Homo sapiens: one gene and its partners. The protein of the gene in region 4 purifies or fractionates together with the protein of the main gene of each other region. This does not show direct contact. Each region holds a gene or a part of one and is shown on either strand. Other genes may lie near its edges.

The links.
Region 1: the proteins of ACADSB (region 4) and KDSR fractionate together in Homo sapiens (co-fractionation; one large-scale study listed by BioGRID). This does not show direct contact.
Region 2: the proteins of ACADSB (region 4) and SCPEP1 fractionate together in Homo sapiens (co-fractionation; one large-scale study listed by BioGRID). This does not show direct contact.
Region 3: the proteins of ACADSB (region 4) and SLC18A2 purify together in Homo sapiens (co-immunoprecipitation; one large-scale study listed by IntAct). This does not show direct contact.

What each region holds. Positions count from the first base shown.
Region 1 is NC_000018.10:63,359,632-63,364,962, forward strand, and holds part of KDSR (3-ketodihydrosphingosine reductase), read right to left. Parts: exon of another isoform or gene 4,062-5,331; intron 3,238-4,061; coding exon 3,148-3,237; intron 162-3,147; coding exon 105-161; intron 1-104.
Region 2 is NC_000017.11:56,980,375-56,985,705, forward strand, and holds part of SCPEP1 (retinoid-inducible serine carboxypeptidase precursor), read left to right. Parts: intron 1-707; coding exon 708-856; intron 857-5,003; coding exon 5,004-5,093; intron 5,094-5,331. UniProt on the Homo sapiens protein: May be involved in vascular wall and kidney homeostasis.
Region 3 is NC_000010.11:117,267,858-117,273,188, reverse strand, and holds part of SLC18A2 (synaptic vesicular amine transporter), read right to left. Parts: intron 3,119-5,331; coding exon 2,999-3,118; intron 2,860-2,998; coding exon 2,726-2,859; intron 1-2,725. UniProt on the Homo sapiens protein: Electrogenic antiporter that exchanges one cationic monoamine with two intravesicular protons across the membrane of secretory and synaptic vesicles.
Region 4 is NC_000010.11:123,038,266-123,043,596, forward strand, and holds part of ACADSB (short/branched chain specific acyl-CoA dehydrogenase, mitochondrial isoform 1 precursor), read left to right. Parts: intron 1-2,200; coding exon 2,201-2,407; intron 2,408-2,943; coding exon 2,944-3,114; intron 3,115-4,780; coding exon 4,781-4,906; intron 4,907-5,331. UniProt on the Homo sapiens protein: Short and branched chain specific acyl-CoA dehydrogenase that catalyzes the removal of one hydrogen from C-2 and C-3 of the fatty acyl-CoA thioester, resulting in the formation of trans-2-enoyl-CoA.

The DNA.
Region 1 (5,331 bases), on a different chromosome or scaffold from region 4:
ATATATGCTTTCAATTAACTATTCACAGGTGAAGTAACTCTGTTTTTCCTTTATACAGCTGTGCTGAGTTATACAGAAAATGCATTCTGAAGACAGAGATTTACCTGTTTGTCATTAATAGAGTGCATTTCAATTTCTTTCTTTGCCTGCAGCAGCTTATCCTGAAAGCAATACAGAATAATTAGTCGTGATGACCGTCTATATGCATGTCCGTTTATTGCAAAGGAGAGAAAAAAAGCAATTATTTCTATATGTATGTATTAAATTCCAGAAAACACACAAAACAGTATCTACATTGCATAGACAGACTGGGCCACAGCCTATGAAAGAAAGAAGTTGTGAAGTATGTTAAGCTATGAATAAGTGATAAAAGTTTGAAAATTAATTAGAGAAAGATAGTAGAAAACAGATAAACCTCAAAATCCCAGTTAACAGTACTAATTGCTGAGGCTGACTCTACAGTTCTAATAAATGTCTTATTATTTAGTTGTGATATAAGACAAGAACAACTCTATTAATATGTACTGCTCCCCAAAGTTGAGGGTATGTGTGACTCCCTGTCAATACTGCTTTTTGTCCAATATTTTCTTCTTCTACTATAAACCCAAACATAGTAAGAATCACTTTCTGGATAGACTGGGTAAACTAGGCCTGGCTACTATAAAATACTCTTAAGCAAGGTTACCTGTGTAATTATGTAATTCTTCCAAGGTCCTAATTTTGTTTGTTTTACTTAGTCTCAAGAAAACAGATATCAGATTATCTTAATTTGCTGTAAAAAGTAACTTAAATAATATCATGCAATAGAGAGGAACCAAAGGAGAGGCGAATTCTTCCAAAAGGCATGCAGAGTTTCTAAACCTGAATATGTCTATAATGAAATAATATTGTCCTATGACTAAAGATACATACAGCTTGACTTTGCAAAGACTGGAATTAAAAATTACATTAGAAAAGAAAGAATTTCTCAGCCAGGCATGGTGGCTCACCCCTGTAATCCCAGCACTTTGGGAGGCCAAGGTGAGTGGATCACCCAAGCTCAGGAGTTTGAGACCAGCCTGGGCAACATGGTGAAGCCCCGTCTCTACCAAAAATACAAAAACTTAGCCAAGCATGGTGGCGAGCACCTGTGGTCCCAGATACTCAAGAGGCTGAAGTGAGAGGATTGGTTGAGCCTGGGAGGCGGAGGTTGCAGTGAGCCGAGATTGTGTCACTGCACTCCAGCCTGGGTGACACAGTGAGGCCGGGCGCAGTGGCTCACGCCTGTAAGCCCAGCACTTTGGGAGGCCGAGGTGGGTGGATCACTTAAGGTCAGGAGTTTGAGACCAGCCTGGCCAACATAGTAAAACCCTGTCTCTACTAAAAAAAAAATATATATATATATAAAATATATAATATATATAATAAAAATATATATTTTATATATATGTAAATATATATACACACACACACACACACAAATCAGCCAGGTGTGGTTACACACACCTGTAATCCCAGGTATTCCGGAGGTGGAGGTTGCAGTGAGCCAAGACAGCGCCACTGCACACCAGCCTGGGTTACAGAGCAAAACTCCGTCTCAAAAAAAAAAAAAAAAAAAAAAAAAAAAGAATGAATTACTCAACACCACAGGTTCTTCATTCAGTTCATTCATTTCTAGCAATGCAAGGGCCCCATATGAGCTCCTGGGGGCCTGAAATGCTGGCCTTCTCTGCCTCCACTTTTATTTACTTGCATCAAAACTGGTGTTTAAAACTCACAAAATGCCATTTCATCAAATTTGTGTTTTCATTTATGTAAGGTGGCTTCAATGCCAAAGCAAATTCATTGTTAGAAAAGTCAAGCTATAAATAAAAGGTAGCTAATTTTGTCTTTCTTGGTTTGCAAAAGAAGTTATAGACGTCCAGGCCAGGTGTGGTGGCTCACACCTGTAATCCCAGCACTTTGGGAGGCCAAGGCGGGCGGATCACAAGGTCAGGAGTTCCAGACCAGCCTGACCAACATGGTGAAACCCTGTCTCTACTAAAAATACAAAAATTAGCCAGGCGTGGTGGTGGGCGCCTGTAGTCCCAGCTACTCAGGAAGCTAAGGCAGGAGAATCACTTGAACCCAGGAGGCAGAGGTTGCAGTGAGCCGAGATCATGCCACTGCACTCCAGCCTGGGCAACAGAGTGAGATGCTGTCTCAAGAAAAAAGAAAAAAATAAAAGAAATTATAGAGGTCCAAGACTAAGTCTGCGACATTATTTAAATTTTCCCCCAAGGCCCTTCCTGGCCTACCATTCCTAATGGGTCCTGTCCAGCCCTCCACCCATTTGAGGAGTTACCATACTATCACCCTCCTTGCACATGGGTGAATCCAAGATCCCCATGGAAGTATGCCATGCTGACATTCCCAGGCACTCCATCATTCCTCCCTTCATTTCTTCATTCAACAAACATGTCTGAGCATGTACTACGTGTCAAGCACTAGAATTGCTGCAGCGGACGAGCCAGCTGTGTGGTCACTTTCCTCCAGTCCCCATATGGGGAGCAAGAGGACGTCATGACAGTTCACGTGCACAGTGTCACTGCTTTGTGCTCTAAAAACAACTTTGGCAAGACAAAAACAAACCCTGACAAAAAATAAAAACAGATTCTGTGTTGACTTAATACAGAAAAACACATTTTGCTAAACTTCTAAGGAGGGACGAGGTTCCTCTATGGTGTATAGATTTCACTAGAGATATATATCATGTCCTAAGCAAATCGTAGTGAAAAATTATAGAGAAACACCTACACACCTTCAGGTATCAGCTCCAGAATCACTGCTTCCAGCACTTCTGACCTGGCCAAGGGCCCTCCCTGGCTTCCAATGGCCAGGTGTGCTCCTTCAACTAGACCTTGGCCTCTCCCATCTCAGGATCTGCAGTATCTATGATGATGTTGCCTAATATGCCAATGGTACTAAATAAATACTTGTGGGGCCGACCTGATTTCAACAGAGAAGTGTTTGGCCTAAATACTAGAGAGAATCAGTAGTTCAGGAAACACATCTCACATCAAGGAAGAAGCGCTTTCTAGGTGTGAATGCTAAGATGTTTAGCACAGCCTCTTTGACTAATTTCAAGTCGAAGAAGCAAGTCAGTAATAATGAACCTAGAAGCCTTACCTCATTTCGTGCAACCAGAGTTATAAAAGCTCCTTGTTTATAGCACTCGATAGCAATGCACTTCCCGATGCCACTGGAACCTCCTGTAACCTAAAACAAAATCATAAAATATTCTTAGCACTTGAAATCTCCCCTCTGTAGGAAGTTTTTATAAAAAACAACTATGACAGGCTCTTAAAATGAATCTACAAGAACTAAATGATTAGCTGTTGTTAACTTCTTCATCCCAAACTTAATGACTGGAGTAAGTGTAAGCATGAAAGATACTATCAGCAAGGCCTGCTGCTTTGACTGTTTTCTTATGGAACCATAAATTGCACACCTATAATATTTTTCTGAGTTCACTGGTGGAAAAGTGCCCTATAAGTCTAGCTCATAAATAATACATTAGTCTGCCTCTGATTCCAAATCCAAATGAATCTTATTTTCTTTTTTTTTTTCTTTTTTTTTTTTTTATTATACTCTAAGTTTTAGGGTACATGTGCACATTGTGCAGGTTAGTTACATATGTATACATGTGCCATGCTGGTGCACTGCACCCACTAATGTGTCATCTAGCATTAGGTATATCTCCCAATGCTATCCCTCCCCCCTCCCCCGACCCCACCACAGTCCCCAGAGTGTGATATTCCCCTTCCTGTGTCCATGTGATCTCATTGTTCAATTCCCACCTATGAGTGAGAATATGCGGTGTTTGGTTTTTTGTTCTTGCGATAGTTTACTGAGAATGATGGTTTCCAATTTCATCCATGTCCCTACAAAGGATATGAACTCATCATTTTTTATGGCTGCATAGTATTCCATGGTGTATATGTGCCACATTTTCTTAATCCAGTCTATCATTGTTGGACATTTGGGTTGGTTGAATCTTATTTTCTTAATGCACATTTATGCAAGATTAGCTCTACAACAGATGAAAAGAATGGCCACCTGAATATTTATTTGAAATGACTGCTTAGTATAAAAGTAATATACAATCACAAGGAAATCCTGAAAAGTAAAGCTCTTCTTGCACTATTCTACCCCTATCTACAGTTCAGCTATACTGGCTTTCAATTATGGAATTATTCCTAATATTCACTGTTATACATAAATCATGCTGGGAGGAAGATCTCTGACTCCATGTTAGGATTTTAACATCATTGGGAAGTGTCTCCTACGCAAATGCACCTATCTCTATGGGACTCATAGGCATCCCTTACTTCTTTTTAGCTTCAACCTGCCACCACTGAAGAGATTTATTTGGTGGGTAATCAGCCAGTTATCAGCAGAAGATTACTGTAAAAACCCTCCAACCACAGTACCTTGGCACATCCTACTTCCCTTGCAACGAATGCTCTTCTCCCCACTTCATCTGACACCTACTCGCCCATCAAATCTCAGCTCAAATACCACTTCCTCAGGAAAGCCTTCACTGTCTCCCCTGCCCCCACACTGACACACTTTTCAGCACTGTATTTCTTCTTTATGACATGCACATAATAAACAGCTCTAGATTTATTTGTGTGATTATCTGATTCACAACCACCTCTCCTATCACCTACCCATAAACTCCATTAAAAATACCAATTATTTTTCTGTTCTCCACTATATTCCTAGCACTTAGCCTGGGGAGGGCTCAATATATATTATATATTTCACTGAATAAGTGAACAATGCAACATTATTTTTCTTTTTTTTTTTTTGAGACAGTCTTGCTCAGTCACCCAGGCTGGAGTGCAGTGGCACGATCTCAGCTCACTGCAACCTCCGCCTCCCAGGTTCAAGCGATTCTCTTGTCTCAGACACCCAAGTAGTGGGGATTACAGGCGTGCGCCAGCACGCCCAACTAATTTTTGTATTTTTAGTAGAGATGGGGTTTCACCATGTTGGCCAGGCTGGTCTCGAACTCCTGACCTCAAGTTATGCACTCTCCTTGACCTCCCAAAGTGCTGGGATTATAGGAGTGAGCCACTGTACCCGGCCATATCGTTCTAGTCACTGTCCCTATGCAAATTACATAATATTGCATAGTATTGTCTCCTGTTTTTAAAAAATTATATTGTAATGTCTTATTTGTCAAAAAACGAAAAGGTTTCACAATACTTCATCAAATAGCTGCATCAAAACTTCAACGTTTCCCTATAACCAGACATTTAGATTTTTCCTAATATTCACTGTTATACATAAATCATGCTGGGAGGA
Region 2 (5,331 bases), on a different chromosome or scaffold from region 4:
AAAGTGTTGGGATTACAGGAGTGAGCCACCAAGCCTGGTGTCTTACTCATGTATTAAATACGATATAAAAACCAGTATATTGCATTCTGAGATTTTTACTTTTTTACTCAAAATATAAATCTCTCTTGTTTTTACAGAATTATAAAAGTATTTCCTGTAATCCCAGCACTTTGGTAGGCCTAGGCGGGCAGATCACCTGAGGTCAGGAGTGCGAGACCAGCCTGACCAACATGGAGAAACCCCATCTCTACTAAAAATACAAAATTAGCCAGGCGTGGTGGTGCATGCCTGTAATCCTAGCTACTTGGAAGGCTGAGGCAGGAGAATCGCTTGAACCCGGAAGGCAGAGGTTGCGGTGAGCCGAGATTGCGCCATTGCATTCCAGCCTGGGCAACAAGAGCGAGACTTCGTATCAAAAAAAAAAAAAAAAAAAAAAAAGTGTTTCATATTTATTGTTAAAAATCCAAACATTACAGAAAAGTGTAGAGGAAAAAGTGAAAGCCCCTGGCCTCCTATGCCGCTGTTAAGTTTGGTTTCTTTTTTCATAGCCGAGGTTTTTTCCTTATTCCTGCAATGTACTGGGGTGGCTAAATTACCAAACTATAAAACAAATCATCTCTAGCCTAGCATGGCTGTCTCTACCAGGCTTGGAATTTACCTGTACATTAGGCACTCTTCTGGAGAGTGAAATTGAACTTCTGTTTCAGGAGCTGTCATTGACTGGCCCACAGAGGAGGGCAAGGAAGTATGGGATTATGTGACGGTCCGCAAGGATGCCTACATGTTCTGGTGGCTCTATTATGCCACCAACTCCTGCAAGAACTTCTCAGAACTGCCCCTGGTCATGTGGCTTCAGGTAAAGTAGCTTCCCAGCCTGGCCTGAGGTCAAAGCCAAGTCTCCTCTGTGTGGCTCTTTGCTTGCTTTTTGGGCTGATGTCTCAGCAGTGAAGGGCGGATTTGGTCCAGCAGTGTGACCTGGGGGTTCGGCGTGCTTCTGAGGTAGGCTGAGGCAATGGTATAGCCAAGGAGGCTAAATCAGAGGGCGAGGGGGTTCTAGCCTTTTGCCAGAGTCTCTTTATATTTCCAGACGGTCACAAGAAGGCTCACTGAAAACTCCTGATGATACATTTGAATACATAGTGATAGAAAGTGTTTTGAGGCCGGGCACAGTGGCTCATGTCTGTAATCCCAGAACTTTGGGAGGCCGAGGTGGGTGGATCATACGAGGCCAGGAGTTCGAGACCAGGCTGGCCGACATAGTGAAACGCTGTCTCTACTAAAAATATTTAATACAAAAATTATCCAGGCATGGTAGCACATACCTATAATCCCAGCTACTCAGATGGTTGAGGCATGAGAATTGCTTGGACCCGGGAGGCGGAGGTAGCAGTGAGCTGAGATCGTGCCACTGCGCTCCAGCCTGGGCGACAGAGCAAGACCCTATCTCAAAAGAAAAAAGAAAAGAAAGTGTTATGGAAGGTTCCAAAGCAAAGACCTGAGGTAGCCTGACCCTCCCTTCCTCTCCATACAATCCTTTCCTGAACCCTAACTTCTTACCCCCAGAAAACCTGATCTTTTGAAGGGACTGCTACAAGCCTTCTGCACCTTCGTGTGACTGTTGCGCCTTCCCCCTTTCCCTGAGTGTGTTTGCATTTTAACCTTGAGCTCTGATTGTAGGATGGAAGGCAGGGAGCTGGTTGAAAGATTTGTAGGGACAGGCAGAGGCTCTTTTCTGGCATTTCTGAAATATCTGTCCAGAGATGGCCCACCCCCACCCGGAAGACCACCCACCAGGGAGGAATTAAGGAACATGGTCTTGCCTCTGGAAAATGTAGGCATGGCCCAGCTGGAACCCTGGGCCCCTCATCAGTAAATAGGGACCCTGGTGCTCACCTCCATAGGATGCTACTGGGACGTCTTCCAACAATGCTGGTATTTATAAGCAGCCTCCCACCACCTGGGTTTTGCCTCCCAGGATGGTCGATGCAGACTTTCTGGTGAGATAGAGCGAAAATGAGCAGTTTTCAGGGAGGGGCCTTTCTCTTTTGGAATTATCACTTGTGCCACCTCTGAGGGCTAGAGCTGAGGCTCAGCCCCAGGTGCGGTTATGATAATGCAGAAAAAGAACCCTTGTATGTCAGCCTGGGGAGCCCTGTTCACCTCCGGTGGCTGGAGACAAAGGTGCGGCACAATTGGCAGGGAGAGCCAGGCCGTGGACAAGCTCAGGCCTGCCGTCAGGGGCCTCGGGTTTTCAGTGCCTACCTGCCACTTAGAGCCATGGCAAGATACTTCCTCCTCTGGGCCTTGGCTGTCTAATCTGGGAGATTTTGGTGGTTTTCAAACTTTTTGTTCATCAGCAGAACTTTTCTTTTTTTTTTTTACCCCCAAATGAAAGCTTACAAAGGGGAGACAAAGCAGACAAAAGCACAAGTGCTGAGGCTGAGGCTTCTCCTTTGAAGTTTATCAACTGAAGAGAATAAATTGCTCTTCACTTACCCAGAGACCCAAGAGAGAAGAAGAAAGATTATGCTTACAGAAGAAATAACTAATTTAGATGAAAAGGAGATCTATTTTAGCAGCCTACTGAGGACATGGTGCTGACTTCTCTCGGGGGAATCTTTGAGAATCGAAGTCATGTCTTCTGAGTGGGTTAGCAAACTATGTTAGGGACACTTTCAAGTCTTCGAAGCGTTTCACTTGGTCCACTGACACACTGACTGTGTCTCAGAGTTTCTGGATAGCCCTGGGCCATGCTAGCACCCTATCCCAAAGTTCTAGACAAAAAAGAGGTTTTACAATAGGATATATTCACGTAGAACAGAGGCTTCCTCCATCCAGCATCTCATTGCCTTTTGAGGAGAGGGGAATGAGGAGAGAGGAGAGGGAGAGGTCATCTTCTGCTGTCTCCCTGGCATACCAGAAGCAGAGGAGAACTGAGATTTCTCCCACAAAGACCCAACCCCTAGGATTTCCAGCTTTTCTCCTTTTGCTTTGATCCTACCTCATCCTAATAAGTCCATTAGGAAAAAGGAACCCAGCTTTCATTGGAGGGTAGATCCCTGGCTTTAATTTATTGCATATTGCATTATAAATATTTTTCAATGTTGCCACATCATTTTTCGTAGTTCATGATTCTAAGTGGCAGTGTAGCATTCCATGCAGTAGATGTGGTATGGTTGCCTAACCTGTTCCCCTATTTGGGGGACGTTTGAGTTGCACCCTTACTTCTGTTATTTTTAATAGGACTGCGGTTAACATCTTCATCTGGTTTGTGAACTTTTTACTGCTTAGGAAATCTTAAGATACAAAGGGCATATGATCAGGGGGATGTATAGCCTTCCAATTTTATCAGAGTTAGGTTGGTCCAGGTTCAAAACATTAGTGTTGTAAAGTCTTTCCCTTTTGGGGCCCTCTTGCCGTTGCTAGTTACCCTTTAGCCCTGACTCTATCTTGTCTTTTTTTTTTTTTTCTTTAGATTTCCCTACACAAATTGCCCTGGCTTTTGTTTTGCCCAAGGTATTCCCTTTCATCTTTTTTTTCTTTTTCTTTTTTGAGATGAGGTCTCGCTCTGTCACCCAGGCTGGAGTGCAGTGGCGCAGTCTCGGCTCACTGAAACCTCCACTTTTTGGGTTCAAGTGATTCTCGTGCCTCAGCCCCCCGAGTAGCTGGGACTACAGGCGCACGCACCACACCCGGCTAATTTCCTGTTCTTAGTAGACGCAAGGTTTCACCATGTTGGCCAGGGAGGACTTGAACTCCTCTCGAACTCCTGACTTCAAGTGATCTGCCTGCCTTGGCCTCCCAAAGTGCTGGGATTACAGGCGTGAGCCACCGCACCCGGTCCCCATTTCGTCTTTTCATATCTCCCTTTCCTACCCATCCTGCTAGTGCACAGAGAGGCCATATCCTTTTATTCTAGGTCCTCTGCCCTTTCCCTCGCCTCAGCTGACAGGGCCCTTCTCATAGACTCCCCACCTCAATTGGCCCCTGGATTTGTCCAGAAAAAGCACTGACCATCTTTTCCCCTGACCACCTCCCAAAGAGCCTCCTCTTGTCTCAATTAGAAAGCCCACCCAACCTGTCCTATTTGCCTCTTAGTTTCTTTTTTCTCTGAAGCCCTCAGAGCCCATAGAACTGCCCCCAACACCGAGCTGTGGTTCAGAATCCTGCCTTTCCCTCTCCCATGGATGCTCACAGTATCAAACTCTCCCTGCCCTGGGACTTTAGAAACTGCTGCATTATATCCACAGAATCTGCTTGATCAAACTGCTTCTAAGTCTGGGTCCCTTATCAATCCACAGGGACTCTGAAGAGTCTCCCATCTCCTGGGGAGAGGGTGATGGAGGAAGAGTCAGAAGGCCCAGTGTCTAGTCCGGTTAGAGCTCCTTCAGGTCAGCAAGGCCTACGGCAGGCCAAGGCTCCAGCTCAGAAAATCAGGAGGCAGCTGGGTGTGATGGCTCACACCTGTAATCCCAGCACTTTGGGAGGCTGAGGCGGGAGGATTGCTTGAGCCCAGGAGTTTGAGACCAGCCTGGGCAACATGGTGAAACCTCACCTCTACAAAAAATACAAAAATTAGCCGGGCTGGGCATGGTGGTGTGCGCCTATAGTTCCAACTACTTGAGGGGGCTGAGGCGGGAGGATCACTTGAACCCCAGAGGTAGAAGCTGTGGTGAGCCGAGATTGCACCACTGCACTCCAACCTGGGTGACAAAGTTAGACTCTGTCTGAAAAGAAAAGAAAAGAAAAGAAAAAATCAGGAGTCAGGAACATTCCATTGTGGACCTCTTAGCTCAGCTCTGCTCCTTTCAGAGAAAAACCTCAGCAGTTACTAGGGGAGCTTTGCTAATGTGGAAGTCCCTGGTTCACTAGAGAAATTGTGTCTTTTGTGCAAATTGACCCAGCCATCACTAACTCATAAACCATCTATAGCAAATGTGGTCATTCATTGTAAAGACTAAGATCTGACTAAAATTTTTGTTTGTTTCTTCTCTCTTCCATAGGGCGGTCCAGGCGGTTCTAGCACTGGATTTGGAAACTTTGAGGAAATTGGGCCCCTTGACAGTGATCTCAAACCACGGAAAACCACCTGGGTACAGTGAGGACAGTCCTGAGCTAAACCTTGCCCCGTGGCCTCTCAGAGGCCCTGCCCAACTCTGGGAGGGGCCACAAATGTAGCAATCCCTCGCTGTCCTTTTCCTTTTCCTGTGACTACTGAGGCCATGGGCACTTGTCCGCAGGCTTCCTCTCTGGCCTAGCTTCTCTCCCATTTCTCAGGACAGCTTATCTTGCACCAGTCTGCCTCGCCTTCTCCAAAACAACCCCTCTCTC
Region 3 (5,331 bases), 5.8 Mb from region 4:
CCAAATGGAAGACAAACTCACATGCTTATAAACTAGTTCATGATTCTGTCACTTGTGATCCATGAAAACAGCATTATATCTTACAATATAAAACAGCTTAAGTCCAAACACCTTGTTATCAGGATGCTGTCTAATGGAAGAATGATTTGCTAAGGGTCGTATGCCTTCTGGCCCTCACATCCCCCAGCATTTGGCAACTGCTCATCCTGAACGCCAGCACTTGTCTGCTCTGGGGTTTCTCAACTGCATGGTCATTGATTCTTCCTCCTCCCTCACACACTGCTGTCCTGCCTGCATGCCCCCTTATCATTAGGTGCTGTCGGCCGCCACCGCTGGCTTCCTGCTCTGCTTGCACAATGAGTAGGCAGCAACTGCTGGCCACCACTCTCAAATGTCACCATTAGGCCAGTCAAATGGCATCCAATGTGATGCCTTCAATTATGGGCATCATTGATGGGCAGCGAGATGCACACCTTCTCAAGTTTTTAATGATTTATCTTGCTAGGTGCTTATTAAGGATTGTAACATCTTGCAGTGAAAGTGGCTTCCTGGAAACCTATAATTCTTACTGTTTGGCCTTTCAGGATCGTCTCTTCCACTTCCTTCAGCATTTTTTTAAAACATGAACTGAAGTATTCGTTTAAATGGGGAAAGAGGAGGGGTACTGAGGCCTGCCTTCTGCCAGTCCTTCTGCGGAACACAGTGGTAGTTGGCTGGGCAAGCACATTCTCTGCTCATCCTCTGACCTCATTCATTTCCCCAAGGCCACAGATAAGCCATCAGGCTGCCGTTCACAAACGGACATCACAACAGCCACTGATGTTTGCCGGCTTGGCAAGGGGAGCCCATTCAGGAGTTCTGGGGTCTGTATAGCAAAAGGAAACTCTCACATCACAGAGGAGGAAAAAGGGAGAAAATTCAGGTATTGCTGGACTGACGGGGGAAGCCAGAGAGTTAGATAAGCAGGAAAGAGTGGGGTGATATTGGAAATAGGAACACACTTTTTGAGCCACAGGGCCAGTCACTCTGTTGGGATTCTTTCATTTAATCCTCACAACAATCCTATGAGGTAGACGTTATCATTTCTCCATGCAACAGAGGAGGAAACCAAGACTCATAAGCCTCTACATGGTGGGGCCAGTGTGGCTCCCAGGCCCATGCTAGCCCTAACTATCTCCCAGGAGTCTTCAAACAGTTTCCTGGGCTACAGGAGCATTTGTAGGTGATTTTATACACACACACACAGACACACACAAACACATATACACACATATATACTTTTTTTGGTCAAAAACATTGAGTAACCTCCATTCAGCCTTAAACTGTTATCATGGCAACAGAATGGCAGTTTGCATTTGTGCTGAGAATTTTCTGACTCCATTTCGGCAAGGTATTATGCTAGGGTCAGCCAAGCAAAGATGCATCTGAAATTTACACACCCAAGCTGGAAAGCAGATGTCTCCTAAGAGAGGTCTGAGAAGGTGATGTGGTTTTCAGAGCTGGGGAAGCATCTAAGCAAGCGGAGGGAAGGACAAGGGGATGGCTTCTGTCTGAGTTATTTCCACAGCACCTTCCATACCTTTTCCATGAGTCAGACGGGCCATGCATTACTCAAAAGTATCTAGTTAAATCCTATTTAAAATAAAGGGCACAAGGCCAGTGCCCAGTGCTTGATATATTTTAAAATATGTGGAATGAATTAATGAATGTAAAAAACACCCAAGACAAACACAGGCTGCACATAACCTTATTTTAAGGTTTGTCTTTAAATCTCCTTTTGGGGAAAAGCATCAAAGGGCAGTTCAGGAAATGCCAAAGCATTAAGATGCATTCAGTTCCACTGTCAGAAAGACCTTCTGATGTACTTCCAAGAGAACATTACAAACAAACCTCACATCTATTCAAACACAAAAATGCATGTCCTCTTGTTCACCTCATTCATCCTTAATCCAAGACACTCTCCTTTCACCTGGACAAGTACCTATCAGCATTTGCTGTTTTAAAAACTGGCAACACCAGATAAGAAAGATGATCAGAAACACTGAGCGTCTCCTTGCTGGGTAAGGTAAATACCTTAGAAAGGTTAAAATGACTCATGCATTTCAAAATTCAAATTTTGAATCAATTAATTTGGACTTTTTCAAAAGAGGGATGCTTTATACTCTGTATCTTGCCTATGGCTATAATTTTGGTCATAAAGTTATGAATTAAATCGTTCTGTGTGTTCACATATACCCCAAAGTCCATATACAATGATTTTTCCATAAAAATCGTAAAATCATCTCTAAAATCCTACATACAGTAAAGACAAGACAGCAACTATTACTGAATGCTGTAAGGGTTATGAGAAAAGCAACAGCACCACAAATGGCTAACCTTGGGCATAAGTACAGGAGGCAGAAAGATTGTGTCCAAGATTTTCAAGAACCATAGAAAATCAAATTGAATGATTCCAGGTTTATACTTGGTCGACAAAAGAGCAACACTGATGCTAATCTATGTACAAAAATAATTTCATTCTCCCAGTTTATAAACATAAGCTTGAAAGAAATAACTTTCACAGTAATAAAAAAATAAAAGAAGTAACTGCTCTATGTGGTACAAACTAAAAAGGAATTCTCACCATTTATGTTTGAAGGCTTTAGAATGAAACCATGAGGAAGCTATCAGGAAGGCCATGCTAAAATTATCAAGAAATGCTCACTGCATCCTAAATTTTTCTTACCATTTTTTCTTCTTTGGCAGGTGGACTTCGAAGAAAAAAGCAGAGAGGGGCAAAAAGAATATCAATTATCCCAATAATTGTCATGAGCCATGGAAATCCAATTGCCTTTGCAATAGCACCACCAGCAGAAGGACCTTTCAGGAAACAGAGAATTAGATAAAGCTCTTCCAAATGTCTTGTAGACTGAAAGATGCAAAGATTTAAACAATTTTAGTAGACGTTATCCATTACGTATTGAGGTAAAAGGTTCTTATGAAAAGCCAATGTCCTTACCTATAGCATACCCCATACAAAATGCCACATCCGCAATGGCGTACACACTCCCATAGACGGACACGTGCCGCAGGTCTACGAGGTAGCCCATGATAGGCATCATTGACGAATCCACCATTCCTGAAGACAGTCAGGGAACACAGTGTATAGAAAACGGATGTAAACCCAAAATGGGCCGAATATCAGGGAGTGTGTCTTAAACTCACCACCCTGCCAGCTCTTCCCCTTCTGTCATCACCACCTGCAAGTCTTGGGGTGATACTAATCTTTGAGTAGAAAGAATGAAGGAAGCCTTTTCTGACCCCCAGAGGAGGTCAGGTTCCCCTCGTATACAGATGTTCTCTCACAGCATCATCTCAATTGTCATTCATTCTTCAATTCTTTGCTAAATGCCCAACTCTTCTGTTGGTTTTGTTCACCCATATCCCCAGCACTTGTACATATTAGGAAGCAGCAAGCACCATTTCAATGAAAGAAACTTTCCTCATGTGCCTGCCACTGACACATGTGGAGGGGAGGGCACCAACCTCTGAGTCCCTGCCAGTGTGTTCACAGACACTGGCTCACAGCAGCCAATCATGAGCATCCCCATTTTATAGATGAGGAAACCAATACTCAGAGAGGCGAGGCTTGACCACACTCACTGAGCCAGGGAGTCTGAGCCAGGAACTCTGAACACACACCATCTTTATGCTACCTGCTCCCCACTATTCAAGAGACGAGATTCTAATGCTGGTCGTGGTTGTTGCTGGGGTGTATGTCTGTATGTATATGTGTGTATTTATGAGTATGTATGTATATGTATATATGTATCTGTGTATGTCTATGTATATGTGTGTATGCATGTGTGTATGTGTATTATGTATATGTATATATGTATCTGTGTATGTATGTGTATATATGTGTGTACATGTGTTTGCATGTGTATGTGTCTGTGTATATGTGTTTGTGTATGTACTTGTATTTGTGTATGTGTGTGTATGTGTATGTGTGTAGGTGTGTGTGTATGTGTGTATATGTATGTGTGTATGTGTGCATATGTATGTGGGTGGGTGTTTGTATGTGTATGTGTATCTACGTGTATGTATGTATGCATATGTGTGTATGTATATTTGTGTATGTGTATGTGTTTATGTGGGGGGTGTATGTGTGTATGTGTGTGTGTATGCGTGTGTCAGTGTGTGTATGTGTGTTTGTGTGTATGAATGTGTGTGTTTGTGTATGAGTGTGTATGTGTATGTATGTGTGTGCATGTGTGTTTTAGCTTCTTTTAGTTCACACACATACACACAACACACACATACACACTCATACACACAACACACACATACATGGATACACATGCATACACACACACACACACATAAACATACATACACACACATAATTTCTGAGCAGGGCCAGATGATCTCTCGGACTCCTTGGAGTTCTGGGGCGTTCTGGTCCCCCCTATTATTCTCCACCTTGGAAACACCCATAGTCTAAGCGTGTGGCCCAGGTGTGACTGGCAGGAGGTGGGTCAGGCATGCAGGTGTGCTGAGTGGTGAGGGACAAGTGAACCAGAAAACAGCAAAGCAGGGAAGCACCAAAAGGATGCAGGCCAGGGGCCGTACAGTTAGCAACCTGCAACTCTGCCAGACCTGCAGAATGGCAAGGGGAGCCGCCAGAGGACTAGCACCCTCCCTAAAAAGATGGGCCAACCAGACAGTGGAGGACAAGGGGAGGCAAGGCAGAGGACAGGCAAACGGTCACCTGAGAAGGACCTAGAGTACCATACTGAGTTCTACCCCAGCCTCAGCAGCCTTCTACCATCTGTCCTCAGTGAAAGCCATGCTGTGCCACTGTACCACTCAAAGGTTGCGTTCCTGCTTCTACAGGGGTGGACTGAGCACTTATTTTTATCATGATCAATTGGTATATTATAAATAAGAGACAAAAGTATACCATTCACTCAAAATAGTGACAGATTTTTCCTAACATATTATCATTCTTAACATTACAAAAGCCCATCTCCTTGCCCATGGGAATTCCTGCAGCACAGGCGGTCATCAACACATTAGTCTGCTTTGTCTGTACTAAAACCTCTTCAAAATACATATGTGAAGCCTTTGCCCCCAGCCTCATGAGAAGACCTGCTCATAGGGAGGAGTCCACAAAAATGAGCTCTGTGCAAGGGATTCCTTTGTTTGCCCAGCCCCAGCAGTGGAGCATCAGTTTCCTTCTGTAAATATCAGCTTTTAAAAAATACTGGTTTTCAGGAAATAAATGACTAGTGCATAGAAGCAGGTGTCTTTACACGGAGAATCGACAGGCTGTAATTTAGCTAAGCTGCC
Region 4 (5,331 bases):
AACCCAATGCCACCATGAAGAAACCCTACTTTAGATAGTGAAACTTCATAGCATAGTTTATATTCTACCTGAAGCTCTATATAAGTGATAAACTTAGAAGCAGAGGTGATACATGAATTCCACATAAACCGGGCAACAGATTCCCATCTTCTCAAGTCACATAGCTCTTTAATGGAAATACAACGTATGAAATAGATACAAGTAAAACCGCTCTCACTGTGAGTAGGGGGAGGGGCTATTAGCATAGGGGCTTCTAGAAGAACATTTTAAAAATCACTGCACGCATCATTTCTCACTTCCGCAGAGGTATAAAATATATTTTTTTTAATTTTTAATACTAAAGATGTCCCAGAACAAGTGGCTGCTATTCAGAGCCATTGGCCTAAATCTTGTCTGCCATCTGGTTTGAAAAATAACCATTGCCACTTAGCTAGATAGTTTTATTTATTTCTGTTTTAAAGCAACCAGCTTTTTTATACCGTGTGTAGTAGTGATTCTTCCATCTTTCTTTTAGCAGTCAAACTCTTAGGAAACTGGAATCTTATGTGGAACCATAGTGGTCAAACAGGAGGCCGATGTGGAGAACAGATGGACTCTGTGAGTCCATTTCTCAGCCAGGTTTTATTTCTATTGCTTGCAGACCCTCTAGGCTTCTGGGAGCAGTCTCACGGTTTCACAGTGTGAGATCTCCCCCGCGGTGGTCGTTCCTGCAGCGGGGCTGTCTGCAGAGTGATGCATTGCCTGCACCCTGCTACTCATCTCCACAAACCACTCCTGTGCAGATGCAGCCTCACCTGCCTCCTCACTCCCATTGTCCTGGGTTTTTGGCATAATGGCTTGCAAAAACACTATTTCCACGTTGGGAGAGATTAGTGACTTTTTTAGAGAAGCAATGTCTCTGATATCTGTTCGAGTCATTGTAATGAGGTTTCCGGAGTGCCCTCCTCAGTTCTCAGGCAAACCCAGATCCTTCCGTTCTTCCTCGTTTCTGGTTTTCTCACCATTCAGTCGCTCGCATTTCTGGTTCCCTTTTCCTGTTGTAGCCCAAAATGTAACAGCCACAGCCCTGACTGCAGCATAGTGTGACTCCAGGAATGTCTAGAGAGAGACTAAGAGAATTATCCTTCTGTTAGCAGCTGTGGGTTTTGAATTACACATGCACACATTCTCTTTGTGAAATTGAGAGTACTATGTGAGTTTCAGTAACGATGGAACTGGGTCGTTGGAAAGGCTTGGCTGGCACTGGTCGTGTTTACCAGGCCCTCGTGCTTTGGCTAGTGTGGCTCTAGCAAACACCACCACATGTTCTCTGCTAACCATCCTGAACTTATGAAGTGGCGTAAAAGGAATGGTCATTCAATTATTAACTTGGCTGAAAAAGTCAAGGTGAAAGAGCCTGACTAGAAGAAACTTTGCCAAATGAAACTATAGACATCCCATTGAGGAGTAGGTTATTTTCTTCTGTTTCCTTATTACATTGAAATCAGCATAAGGTGGGTAGGGCATGTTGAAAAATCAAAACCCCACCTACCTGCTTTAAGCAGGCAACAACAGTTCTTAGCAAGAAAGGTCATCTAAGTATATAAGATATTTTCTCATTCCATTAAGCTACCCTTTAAAGCATTTTACCTCTCATTATTTTTTGAATCCCAAAAGGAAGCAAATGATAGCATATAATTTTATCCTTTTCAAATATACAGTTTCTGTTACAGATTTTTTTGTTACTTATGGCAAAATTGCTATACCAAATTAAAATAAAATATAAATACAAAATTTTAAAATTAAGAATAATTATGGTGGCTGGGTACAGTCGCTCACGCCTGTAATCCCAACACTTTGAGAGGTTGAGGTGGGTGGATCACCTGAGGTCAGGGGTTCGAGACCAGACTGGCCAACATGGCGAAACCCCATCTCTACTAAAAAAAAAAAAAAAAAATTAGCTGGGTGTGATGGTGGGCACCTGTAATCCCAGTGACTTGGGAGGCTGAGGCAGGAGAATTGCTTGAACCCAGGAGGTGGAGGTTGCAGTGAGCTGAGATTGCGCCATTGCACTCCAGCCTGGGAGACGGAGCAAGACTGTCTCAAAAAAAAAATAATAATAATAAATATGGTTACAGTTTATTTTTTAACTTGTTCATGCAAGAAATTTCCCCATATAAAAATAGCTTTCTTAATCTATGTTGCCTTGTTTTTTCTTTAGTTGATGGGTATTGAAGTTGACCCAGAATATGGAGGCACAGGAGCTTCATTTTTATCCACTGTGCTCGTGATAGAGGAATTAGCCAAAGTTGATGCATCTGTGGCTGTCTTTTGTGAGATCCAGAACACATTAATTAACACACTGATTAGAAAACATGGAACAGAAGAACAAAAGGCCACCTATTTGCCTCAGCTCACTACAGAAAAAGTGAGTTGAGATGAATTGTTGATCTAATGGATCTAATCTTTAGTAAGTTTACAATATTTTCAGGAAAAAAGTAGCTGCAATGTCGACTTTACTATCCAAGACCACAATGCGGTATCATTAATTCAAGCAATGCTTGATAAATTAATGCTGCTGGAAAAGTACACTCTACCTCTTATTTGCCAGTTGGAAATTTAGAAAATAATCATCAGATAATAAAATTATTTCTTTTTGTCCTGATTATATTTTCTAATACGTTTGTTGATGGTTTCATTTACGTTGTGATGTCTTTCTGCTGTAATTATTCAAATCAATTTCAATGAGTATGTGTTCGTGAGTCTTTAAATTTGTCTTGGACAAATAGGGTATATTTTTTGGAAAATAATACTTTCAGAATACCATTGCTATTTTCATAAATATAGGCTTTTTAAAAAAGCAGCTAAAGATTTGATTTACAAATGTCCATTTTTCCATAAGTATTTGTTATACAGAGTATAAATACAGTTATTAATTTGGACATTTTTTTCTCCCATATGTAGGTAGGAAGTTTCTGCCTTTCAGAGGCTGGAGCAGGTAGTGACTCATTTGCTTTGAAGACCAGAGCTGATAAAGAGGGAGATTATTATGTCCTCAATGGATCAAAGATGTGGATCAGCAGTGCTGAGCACGCAGGGCTCTTTCTGGTGATGGCAAATGTAGACCCTACCATTGTAAGTTTGAAAACGAAATTTCTTTCTTTTTCCAAACCCCTTCTTTTCTCTTTCTTTATCTTTTCCTCCTTCTGTTTCCTTTTTAGGACTTCATCTTGAACTCTTTAGTCTTCTCAGTACTGAAAATGTCAGACTTGAGCTGGCATTTTTTCACTTCGTTAATCTCCTAAAGTAAATATTGTTGACAAAATTATTAATTAGAATTGGCCCACCATATCTGTGGATTCAACCAACTCTGGATTGAAAATATTTGATTAAAAAAAAATTCTGCAAAGTTCCAAAAAGTAAAACTTGAATTTGCTTTGTGCCAACTACCATATTGAATTCACGTGAATAAAGTGACATGCATGTATTATGTTAGGTATCAGATAATCTAGAGATGATTTAGAGTCTACCGGAGCATGTGCATAGGTTATATGCAAATATTACACCATTTTATGTAAGGTACTTGAGCACTGTCAGATTTTGGTATCCATGGGGGTCCTGGAACCACTCCGCCACAGATATGGAGGGATGACTGTTTGTGGAGGACCAACTGTTACTTAGCTCCTAATGGGTTATGTAGGAAGCTAATCTTTTTTCTTTTCTTTTTTTTTTTTTTTTTAATATGGAGTCTCGCTGTATCTCCTAGGCTGGAGTGCAGTGGTGTGATCTCACCTCACTGCAACCTCCTCCTCCTGAGTTCAAGCGATTCTCCTGCCTCAGCCTCCCAAGTATATGAGACTACAGGTGTGCACCACCACGCACAGCTAATTTTTGCATTTTTTGTAGAGACAGAGTTTCGCCATGTTGGCCAGGCTGGTCTCAAACTCCTGACGTCGGATGATCTGCCTGCCTCGGCCTCCCAAATTGCTGGGATTATAGGCGTGAACCACTGCACCTGGCCCTAATCTTTAATTTTGTTGAATTTCCAATTTCTGTTTAGTAATGAAGAATTTAAGTACCTATTTAGTACATTTATTTTTAAGAATATTTTATTCAGTTGGAAAATAGACATATAGCAAAATAATAAATACATTTTTTCACCAGTAAATACAGTATTTTCACTAATGTAACAATTGAATTAAATTGTTAAAACTTTTTTTTTTTTTTTTTTTTGAGACGGAGTTTCGCTCTAGTTGCCTAGACTGGAGTGCAAGGCTGTGATCCCAGCTCACTGCAACCTCCGCCTTCTGGGTTCAAGCAATTCTCCTGCTTCAGCCTCCTGACGGGTGCCTGCCACCACACCCAGCTAATTTTTGTATTTTTAGTAGAGACGTTTTTTCACCATGTTGGCCAGGCTGGTTTCAAACCCCTGACCTCAGGTAATCCGCCCGACTCAGCCTCCGAAAGTGCTGGGATTACAGGCATGAGCCACCGCACCTGGCCTAAAACTTTATATAGTAAAATTAAATTGAGAACATGACATTCTCATGATTATATAATAGTGTAATAATAATTTTAATATTTATGATGGTCTCTGAAAAAGTGAAACAAATGGTAAGGTTCTATAGTTTGGATCTAATGTCCTCTAGCTGCTCTCGTTTCATAATGCCCATGTTGCAATTCTGAGTCCATTAGTATTTATTACCAAAGTCCATTTTTAGTTTTCTTTTTACTTAAACTCTTCAGAAACAAGGCGTTTTATAAATCCAAGTGGTAATAGCGTTTTAATTCTTCTTTTTAGGGATATAAGGGAATTACCTCCTTCTTAGTAGATCGTGATACTCCGGGCCTTCATATAGGGAAACCTGAAAACAAATTGGGGCTCAGAGCTTCTTCCACCTGCCCGTTAACATTCGAAAATGTCAAGGTGGGTATCGTAGACTAATCAGTAAAAGACTGATGCGAAATAAGCCTTGCATGGAACCACAGGAGGTGTGCAAGACAGGTGTCAAAATACTAAGTGGCTATAAGCACACGCAGGAGAGTATTTTGTAAAACCCTGAACAGCGCTCTTTAGTCATGACCAGATAAATGTACTTTTCACAAAAGTGGAAACCTTTCTGCCAAGAAGCTGTCCTGGGAAGCAAGTGCCAAGAATTCATCCCATTTATGTTTTATAACTTATGTGCTTCTGACCACGTATACTTTATAAGCTTGAGACTTGTGAACCAAATGGGGCCGCAGAGAAGGAAGTCTGGTGTCAGTGCACTAAAGGCCACAAGATGGGGGTGTTGCTCAGTGAGAGCGGAAACAGCCAGGCTATTAAACGTGAGCAGCAGAAGATCCAGATAG